Linked DNA regions of Homo sapiens: region 2 is linked to region 1. Evidence: fine-mapped expression QTL. Tissue or cell type: blood mononuclear cells. Region 1 holds a variant in brackets; the other region holds the start of a gene. Each region is shown on its reference strand, or each on the opposite one.

Evidence for each region.
Region 2: STK38 starts here. The variant in region 1 is fine-mapped to the expression of STK38 in blood mononuclear cells (TOPMed, PIP above 0.99).

What each region holds. Positions count from the first base shown.
Region 1 is chr11:70,016,228-70,021,601 of GRCh38, forward strand. It overlaps a transcript of ANO1 not described here. Among named protein-coding and RNA genes, the nearest start is that of LINC02753, 46 kb to the right of the region's middle. The variant G/A (reference allele first, on the strand shown) is at 3,286.
Region 2 is chr6:36,544,816-36,550,189 of GRCh38, forward strand. It overlaps STK38 (serine/threonine kinase 38), which reads right to left and starts at 2,664. Exons shown (of 14, transcript NM_007271.4): 1 at 2,375-2,664. RefSeq lists an enhancer at 2,199-2,722 and a silencer at 2,470-2,809.

The DNA of each region.
Region 1 (5,374 bases):
ATGTTGGCCAGGCTGGTCTCAAACTGCTGACCTCATGGTCCACCCACCTCAGCCTCCCAGAGTGCTGGGATTACAGGCATAAGCCACCGTGCCAGGCCTGACGTCCTTGCAATTTCTATGTGCATTTTGGCAAAAGTAATGGAATTTGAGAATGCGTGATGGGAGTGAAAACCAGCAATCGGATATGGTGGCGGCTTACCTATGCTGTTGAACCTGGATCTGGAAGTGAAGAGAAGATGAGGTGGTCCAAGCACCATTCCTCAGCCCCTCTGGGGTCATGTGATTGTGGTCACAGGACAGTGGCCAGCCTGGGATGCTGCGGATGGGGAATTCCACAGAGAGAGCTAAAACTAGGACGCTGTAGGGGCTCCGCTCTGCCACCGTCAGGCTTGGGAGCTCCTGGGAGCGCGGGGCATGCATTTCAGTGGCAGCCTCATTTGTCTTCCTGCACAATCCCGCCAGGGACCTCAGGGTCTGCAAAAGAGTTGCAGAGGGTCACGGCTCAAGCCAGGCCCCAAAGTAGGGCTGTGGGGCTCACCCTTAATCTGGCTGCACTCTAGACATTGTGGGCAAAGGAGATAGGGAATCTGCTATCGATACAGGGCTTCTACCAAGATCTGTGACTAAACCAGGCCATTTCCCAGCTGCTTGTCTCACACTGCAGCCCTCTGTCCCTCAGACATCCTGCCCCTGCTTAACTCTTCTACCAAGTGTCACTGTGCTTCGTACTAGAGATTCTACTTAGTTTACTTTCTTTCTTTTCCCGGTCTTTCTTCCCCTCTAGAATCCAGGCTGCCGGGGGCAAGGATTCCTGTCTGCAGGGCTCACTGCCCACTTCCTTAGAAAGATGCCTGGCACAGAGCAGGGCTCAGCCAAATACTTGTTTGATGAATGAACAAAATCCCACGCGGGCCAAGGTGTGTCTTCTCTCCCCATCCGGAGGAGGATGAGGCTTAGCGGTCCGAACAAAGGCCAGACGCCCTAATAATGCTTTTCTTGTGAACTTACAGTTTTTGTGGTTTCTTTTTCCCCTACCCCAACGGAACTGCAAAAAGTCTACACAATGAATCATAAAGGAAACTCTTTGGGGATCAAATGAAATTCTTTTTCAGCCCAGAGCGTGTTTCCCATTTTGATTTTCATTTTTATTTTTTTCACTTAAGGCCAGGAGTTCAAGACCAGCCTGGGCAACAGTTTTCTTCCTTCCTTCCTTCCTTCATTCCTTCCTTCCTTCCTTCCCTCCTTCCCTCCCTCCCTTCCTCCTTTACTTCCCTCCCTCCCTCCCTCCTTCCTTCCTTTCTTTCTTTCTTTTTTGTCTTACTCTGTCACCCAGGCTGGAGTACAGTGGCATGGTCATGTCTCACTGCAGCCTTGACTCCCAAGCTCAAGGGAGCCTCCCACCTCAGCCTTCCGAGTAGCTGGGATTACGGGTGTGCACCACCACACCCAGCTAATTTTTAAATTATTTTTGTGTGGAGACAGGGTCTCACTATATTGTCCAGGCTGGTCTTGAACTCCCTGGGCTCAAGCAATCCTCCCACCTCAGCCACCCAAAGCTCTGGAATTACAGGCATGAGCCACAGTACCTGGCCTATTTTCCCATTTTTAATGAAGCCTTTTACACAAACAAACCCATATGCCTATCCTCAGTGGCTCATGGGCAGGTTCTAGCTACCCCCTGCCTGCAACTCCAGCCCCCTTTCCCTGATGGTCTCTGAGAGTTTTCCTCAATCCCCTCCAAGAAAGATCAGCTTCCCCAACCATCCATCCCATCAGAACCAGTTACATAGTTTGTGGGGCCCAGTCCAAAACAAAAATGCAGGCTTTGCTCAAAACTTATGAAGAGGCCAGGCATGGTGGCTCATGCCTATAATTCCAGCACTTTGGGAGGCTGAGGTAGGAGGGTCTCTTGAGCCCAGGAGTAAGAGATCAGTCTGGGCAACAGAGCAAGACCCCATATCTACAAAAAAAATTTTAAATTTAGCTGTGCATGGGGGCACACACCTGCAGTCCCAGCTACTCAGGAGGCTGAGGTGGAAGGATCTCTTGAGTCCAGGAGGTCGAGGCTGCAGTGAGCTGTGATCACACCACTGCACTCCAGCTTGGGCAACAGAATGAGACCTTGTCTCTATGAAAAAAAAATAAAGAATTTCAAGACCCTTCCAGCATCATGGATGGATGGTGCTTCCTGGCCCTTTGTGGGCAGGTGGGCTGTGAGCTGGTCCTAGCTCTCAAGCCGTGAGTGGAGGTGACATGGCTCGCTTCTGAGCTGGAGCAGTTCTCCGCTGCTTCTAGACTCCACTGCACTCTCTGTGCCTGACAGTGTTTGGGACCGTAGCTGCACCACCTGCCCAGACCCTTCCAGACTACACTGAGCAGAACCCCCTCCCAACCTGGCTTGGACATTGGAAGCACAAGCAGAAAATAAAGTGTTTTTGGAAGTTCTGAGGACCAGGGCATGACTGTTGCTGCAGCAGGATGTAGCCCATCGGACAGATACTCCAAGGCAACGGAAAGACTGAAGAACAAACCTGGGCCTCAGGCTGAAGCCCATCCCCTGAGTCTGTGCCAGCAAGAGACCACACATTCATTATGCATCTGTTCATCTGGTGGGAATATTTACTGAGGACCTGCTAAGTGCTGGGCATGGAGCTCAGTACCGGGGACATGGCCAAAAATAGGCAGCCTCAGTCTCAGCTGCAGAGGAGCTTCCTCCCAGCCGTTCACACACAGTTAGAGTCCATGGAAGGGAGAAAATCCTGCGGCAATAAGTACGCAAAGTCCATGGCATTGTGCAGCCATGTGGCGGAGGGGGGCCTGTCCTCACCTGGGTGCCAGGGAGGGCTTCTTGGAGGAGGTGCCCCATTCATTCATTTATTCATTCGTTCAACAAATGTTGAGAGCCTGTTCTGAGCCAGACCTAAGCAGGCCTCTGTGGAAGGGGTTTAGCAGTGATCAAAATAGTGTGCTGTTCTCCTGCACCTTGGGATGCAGGGGAGGGAAAGAAGAACCCCCCCACACACACACACACACACATTCACTCCCCCGTCTATGGACTCACAACCCACGCTACACACATGCCATGCACATGCACACACACGCACGCACACACACATGCACACACGCATGCAAACATAAAATGTGAGGAGGAAAGGGATGTTCTAAAGGGAAAGAAAGCAAGGAAACCGTTACATTAAGGAACAGGACTCGAGAGGGTGCCGCAGGAAATGGTCCAGGTTTTCCCCCAGTGCCCCTTCAGACCTGCCCTCTGGGTGTGCAGGAGCC[G/A]GCTCACCCAATTCACACGGGCTCACCAGGACTCAGCTCACCCGAGCCAATTGTATCTTCCCAAGTATGCATTCAGTGACATCACCCTGGGAGCTTAAAATGGGCCATGATGGGAAGGTTTACACCTCCGCAATTGGCAAACACTCTAAGTCAGCTTTCATGTGTTTTCTTTCCAAGGGCCAGTTTACCCACCCACCACTGTCTGGGGCTGGCTCTTCTCAGCCCCTTGGGTAATTCTAGGGCAGGCCTCATGACTTCCTGGTCGTCTCATAATGAAAGCTTTCCCAGCCACTTTTAATCACAAAAACATGGTCTCATGTGGATCACTGAAATGTCCAGTCCCACGCACGTCTTCACTGAAAACCGTCATCTTCCTGGCTTCACCGGCCCAGCCAGCCCCAGGCTGAGGCCTCGGAGTGGGAAGGGGGCCGAGGGCCCCTGGCTCTGGGTCTCTCTGCTTCTGCTTCTCTTCCCTCTCCCCTCCCCAATCTCTAGGCTTCCCCCGGACCCTCCAAGGTTGGGGAGAGGCCAGCAGGGCAGGGAGGTCAGGCTTGGTGGGCGGGCGCTAGGTGATCTGGTGGGCTTCTATCCCCCCAGCTGGGGCAGATGTTTAAAGCTGACTCATTTGAGGGTACTCTTGTGGATTGTTTAGTCCATGGGGTAATGAAAACATCCAAATTGGACCCCATGAGCACATGTGTCTGATAGCGAAAGCTTGGGACCCCTCACTCCTGCCAGTTCCTGCCCAACAGCCCACTTCCTATCCACAGGAAATCCCCCACACCCTTCTTCCATCCTCACCACCCACCCTCATCATCTCTGCTGGTGGTGGGGTCAGTTCTCACTCAGGACAGCCGCACTCCACTGCACAGGACACTTATGCCACCCTCTTGCCAGATGCCTTTGAAGAAAGAGTCAGACTGGTCCACCCTCCCCCAGCCCCTGGGGCTCCTTGAGCCTCTCTCCAGCCTTGGCAGGAGGAGGAAAAGCAGCACCTCCCTCAGACAGCTGGAAAGGCCCTCTTCCTTCCCAGCTCAGTGGGTCCGGCCAAGGGTCACCAGACGGGTATTTGTCCCCACCTCCCTACCAACCCCAAGAACACACTCCACACCCCTCTTCGCTGCTGCGGTGTGAAGCTTCAGCCTAACCCAATCCCACAGAGTCCATCTCGACAGCCTGGGATGACATGGGTTCCCCAGAGGGGGACAGAGTGCTGGGTGTGGGTGCCAGTTTAGACCCAGGGGGCAGACTTAGAGGAAGCCTCCCAGAGGTGTCTCAGCAGAGAACTAAACCCAGAAACAAGCCCGAAACGCATTCCCATTCTCCAAGCATCAAAAGGCTGGACTATTCAAAACAAACAAAGAGCTAACCTTTTTAGAAAAACAGGCCCAGTGACCATTCAGCCTCTCATTCGTAGTCATCGTTCGCGGTCGTAACTGCTACTTACCGAGAGGTGCTTCGCTGCGGGCGTCGGGCTGGGTGCGTCCTTTACAGACAGGCCATAAGTGAGCACGTGGACTCGCTGTGGGAATTCATATTTCTTCTGCAAGGAAGAATGACTCATATCCAAACTCACTCAGCTGCCAAGGGGGAGGAGGGATTCGAACCCCCATCTTCTACGCTCCCAAACGCATGCCCATAATCCTCCTGTCCCCATGGAATTATCTAGTGGAGAAAAAATATTGATCAGCAAAAAGAGAAAGAAAAATGATAGAACTTCCTAATATGCCAAACATTGTCATCCCGCTTAAGACTAAAGCTCTGTTTCATCCTAAACTCCAAATGCCAACGTGCTCACTGACTTGACGAACGTTGGTTAGGCCTCGTGCATGCGAGGGAGCGTGGTGGTTGCAGGGGGCTGTCGTGACCTATACTTTTCACTCCCACCCCTTCTTTTTCTTTGTAAAGCTATATACCAACTTCAGTTTTTAGAATAAGGAGAGTGCTTTTTGTTGTTGTTGTTTCTTTTTTTTTTTTAGCTCTATCAGAAGAAATTAAACAGAAACAGAATGGAAAATAAAGTGTATTTTTAAATAAACTGAGGACGTGGTTCCCATTGTCCCCCGGAACCTGGTCCATTTAAAGCGGC
Region 2 (5,374 bases), not on the chromosome of region 1:
GAGTTTGGCTTGTGCCACTGCACGCCAGCCTGGGACAGAGCAAGACTCTGTCTTAAAAACAACAACAACAACAACAAACACAACACAACAATCTGCTAGTATTTAACCCTAAGGCAAACAGTGCCTTCCATATAACAGGCAGTTGAGTAAGTTAATGATTTTTAGTTGTCAACAAAGCTAAAGAATAAAGATGGCCGGACACGGTGGCTCATGCCTGTAATCCCAGAACTTTGGGAGGCTGAGGCAGGTGGATCACCTGAAGTCAGGAGTTGGAGACTAGCTTGGCCAACATGGTGAAAGCCTGTCTCTACTAAAAATACAAAAAAAATTAGCCGGGTGTGGTGGTGGGCACCTGTAATCCCAGCTACTTGGGAGGCTGAGGCAGGAGAATCGCTTGAACCCTGGAGGCACAGGTTGCAGTGAGCCAAGATCACACCACTGCACTCTAGCCTGGGTGAGTGAGACTCCGTCTGGAAAAAAAAAAAAAAAAAAAAAAAAAAGAATAAAGACTACATTTACACTGATGGATATATCAAAAATGCTTTGACTAATTTAAGTAGCTGGCTTGCATTACTACCTAAACTTTTAAAAAGATCAAAAGGACATTAAATGAACTCAAAGATGCTCAAATATTAGACCAACAAATTCTTAAGCAGAGTGTTTTTCAACTTTTAGAGTTTCTAATATAATGATAAAGACTGCACTCTCCTTCCCTTTGACCTTTCTTTAAACCCTCCTCCACTTCCTCTATTGTAATATAAAAAATTTAGCCTAATTCTAATATCCTTTAATCAAAAGATGTAATTAATATTGCCCTATAGCAATTCATAGATTTACTGGGTCAACCAACTTTTCTTAAGACAGGACTATCCATCAGGCTTTCCACAATTCAAGCCTTCCTGCCCTGACCTAGAAGCCATTGGAGGCCTTTGCCCCATTTGTTTCATTCTTCAACTCTGAAGAATTAGGAAATAATAGGTGGCTGAGGAATTCTTCAAAGTTTTAAAAAATTAACAAAAGGAACTGATCCTCATAAAAGTCAGGTGTAAGGCCTGCAAACTCAAAAGGAAGTCAAATGAAAACCATTATGTGATTCAATCTATATGGTTATGCCTGGCTAACTGACTGACTTTACAATGGTACTCTGTGATCACTATAAACAACCCTCTCTCAACAATATGGACTTTATTTCTTTGCGACTGACAATCCATTATCTTTCATTTGGACGATTCAACATTGGAGCTAAGATTATTGCTTAAGTCGCATGTCTAATCTCTCCCACTGAACTGTAAATCCTACTAAACTGTAATCTCTACCTACACTAGAAAGCAAGCACCATGTCTTATACTTGTTTTAATATTCTTCCCCCATTTCATGCACAGTGCTATGCACTTAGCACCTTAAGAAAGATTAACTAGGAAATATACTCATTTTTGATGTCCATTCCTAGGAGTTTATGTGTGATGGGGGATAGGGCTGGGACATGAAATGGTTTGCTATAGCGTTCTCTCCTCTTAGGAGGAAGCTGGTATCTAACGTTTAGGGTGGGGAGGAGAGCCTGTTATCGAGGTGGTGGTTGTTTTATGTTTAGGGAAACCAAATATATTGCCTGGCTAATTCAGAGGCAGGGTGAGCTCAAAGGGTGGAGACACTCAGGGTCTACTTCACTCCAACCCTCCTCGGTGCATTTCAAACAGAACAAGTTTCTCTCCGAGTCTTTTAGTCGTTTCAGAATGAACTGAGAGATCTGGTCTCTCTGCCGGCCGTTCTGCCCGCTTTCTGACACAGACTTTCCTCTAAGCCCTTACCGACTTTTTCCTCTGGCTGTTGCTTTTCCACTCTCTTCTTAAGAATTTTCCCTGCCTTTTCCTGTGATTTGAAGCTTATCTGAAGCCCAGTATCCTAAGACTAACGGAGAAAGGAGCCGACTCAAAGATACCACACCCCAAGGGGGGCTTTCGACATCTCTGCCTCAGACCACAGTTCACAGACCCCAGAAGAAGGAAAAGGAGATAAAAACCGGTGATGACCGAGATCCCTGAGGGACTGACTGGTGGCAGGGAGCAGACAAAGGTGGCAACATGGAAAGGAAAGCCTGGCTCCCGCTCCAACTGCAAAAGGAGAAAGATAAAGGATGGGGTGGAAAGGCTGGGACTGGAAAAATGTGGAGAGGGCCAACAAGGGGCATCTGGAGACGGGGGAAGAAGGGGGTTAAGGAGAGGGGCGGAGAGAGGCCAAGAGGCTGAGAGGTTAGGGCTTGAAAGAGGGCGCCGGCGAGCAGGAGAAAGCCCAAGAAGGAGTCGGAGGTTGGGGAAGGAGGAGATAAAGGAAAAACCCCGGGATGGAGTGAAGACGGCGGCAGCAAGCAACTCACCAGAGCCCAGGGAGAGGCAGGGCTGGGGACGGCGGAGAGCCGCAGACGCCCCTTCGGCCAGTAGTCTCGACTTGAAGGCTGGCGAAGCCCCGGCGGCGGCAGCCAACGAGCCAAAGACGGGAGGGGACGCGTGAGGGACTCTGAGACAGGGGGCAACAGGCGGTTACGGGTGAGGACAACAGGAAGCGTTCCAACTGCCGGAAAAGACGCGAGCGCTGAGGGGCCAAGGCAGCCCGGTCCCCCGCCGCGGAGACGGGCTGGCGCGGCAGCCCGGGGCCGAGACTACGCATGCGCGACTTCCCGGAGCGGCCGGGATTGCGGAACTGCGCTTGCGTGGCCCCGCCCTGCCCCTCCCTTCACCCCCTGCCTAGGGCTGGCTGGACCTGGGTGAGGCCAGATGTGTGAGTGTGAGGCGGTCTCGAAGTAGGCTGGGCTGAGGGGGAAGTTCCATTGTTTTCTTTTGTTTTACTTTTTACTTCGAAATAATTATGGACTCACAAGAAGTTGCAAAATTAATACATACAGGTTCCCTATACCATCACCCACCCAGCTTACCTCAACATTTTTCTTAAGATACAACATTCTCAAAGCCAGGAAATTGACATTCGCACAATACAATTAACTAAACCAATACAATTAACTAAACCAATACAATTAACTTCATTACAGACCACACTCGGATTTAACCTGTTGGGTATGCAGTCATGTGCGTGTGTGTGAGTGTGTGTGTAGTTCTATGAAATGTTGTCACCTGTATAGTTCCCACCCACCCCCCTACCCCGTGTAGAACAGGTCTGCTGGAGCCCTTGGCCCCCCTCCTCTTCCTTAAAGTAAGGACCTTACCTGGGATAAGGTGAGCTCTCATAGGTTTGGGAGGTTACCCAGCGGGCGACCCAGTGTGGACAGAAGAAGGTGCTTTTCAAGGCCACCCAACTCTTATTCTGTACTACTTTTGGGGGTAAAGAGGTCCCAAGTTTAATAGCCTTTGGGCACTTGTCGTTTCTTGAGAATGGAGCACAAAGCCCTCAACTACAAAGTGTCAAGCTCCTGGAAACTAAGATGAACGAGACATGGTCCCTGACTGCCTGCAAAGGGGCCATCTAGGGAGAGAAGGAAGCATGTGCTGCGAGTTATTCATTCATTTCATCTTCAAAGCCCAGTTTCCTTTTGTCTAGCCTCTTAACAAAAATCACTTCTCGCCAGGCGCGGTGGCTCCTGCCTGTAATTCCAGCACTTTGGGAGGTCCAGGTGGGAGGATAGCTTGAGCCTAGGAGTTTGAGACCAGTCTGGGCAACATAAGGAGAATCCACCTCTAAAAAAATTTTTGTAATTGGCCAGCATGGTGGCAAGTGCCTGTGGTCCCACCTACTGTGGAGGCTGAAGCAGGAGGATTGATTGAGTCCAGGAGTTCAGGGCTGCTATGAGCCATGATCATGACACTGCACCCCAGCCTGGGCAACGGAGGGAGACCCTGTCTCAATCAGTCACTACATACATATCAATCAATCACTTCGCCTTTCATTCTCTCTGCCCAGAGGCCCTTCTCCCCAAATGCCTGTTGTCAAAGTCCTACCCATTCTTAAGCTTTTAATAATAGTCCAAGATGTCTGCATAATGCTTTACAGTTTACAAACAACTTTCACTTATTTAATCTCACTTGGTCCTCACTTTGGCAGTGACACACGAGGTTTTGCAGATGAAGTAATTGATACTTAGAGAAGCTAAGTGACTTGTCTGAATTCCCACGGCTAGTAAGCCAAGTAGCCAAGAGGGGAACCCCATTTTCTGTCTGCAAATCCAATGTTCTTTCTCCTCTTCTCTTTCCTCCTTCCAAAGCCCAGCTCAAACCTTATCTTCCTCCTGGAACTTTCCCAGTTTCAGAAGAGGAATTTCACTCTCTCTTCTCTCTTATATATATGTTTTTTTTGGTGGGGGGAGGGGGGTTGTTTTTGTTTTGTTTTGAGACGGAGTGTCGCTCTATCACTAGGCTGGAGTGTAGTGGCACGATCTCGGCTCACTGCAACCTCCACCTCCCAGGCTCAAGTGATTCTCCTGCCTCAGCCTCCTTAGTAGCTGGGACTACAGGACTACAGGCACGTGCCACCATGCCCAGCTAATCTTTTCTTCTTCTTCTTCTTCCTCTTCTTCTTCTTCTTCTTCTTCTTCTTCTTCTTCTTCTTCTTCTTCTTCTCCTTCTCCTTCTCCTTCTCCTTCTTCTTTTTTTTTTTTGAGACGGAGTCTTGCTCTGTTGCCCAGGCTGAAGTGCAGTGGCGCGATCTCTGCTCACTGCACGCTCCGCCTCCCGGGTTCACACCATTCTCCTGCCTCAGCCTCCCGAGTAGCTGGGACTACAGGCGCCCGCCACCAAGCCCGGCTAATTTTTTGTATTTTTAGTAGAGACGGGGTTTCACCATGTTAGCCAGGATGGTCTCGATCTCCTGACTTTGTGATCTGCCCGCCTCGGCCTCCCAAAGTGCTGGGATTACCGGCGTGAGCCACCGCGCCCGGCCTTTTTTTTTTGTATTTTTACTAGAGATGGGGTTTCACCATGTTGGCCAGGATGCTGTCTATCTCTTGACCTCGTGATCTGCCCACCTCCGCCTCCCAAAGTGCTGGGATTACAGGCGTGAGCCACCGCACCCGGCCCTTTCCTCCTATATTAATTTATCTGTACCACAACTCAAATAAGCACTAAAGTTTTCCTCAAAACAGCCCAGCCAAATTATGCTGCTCTTTCTGCAGGAACCCAAAAGGTGACATTTTACCAAGATTCCAATAACTATAATGGACGTTTGTCATTCTTTTTGGCCACTTGAGCATCTGAATCCCTTTCCTATCACCAAAACTGAAATCACTTATACCCATCCCAGACTGTGAGTTGGAAATTAGAAAGATCTGACCTGCATAATTTTGATGTTGTCACATCCCCGTGTTTGTTTGTTTGTTTGTTTGTTTTTTGAGACGGGGTCACCCAGGCTGGGGTCACCCAGGCTGGAGAGC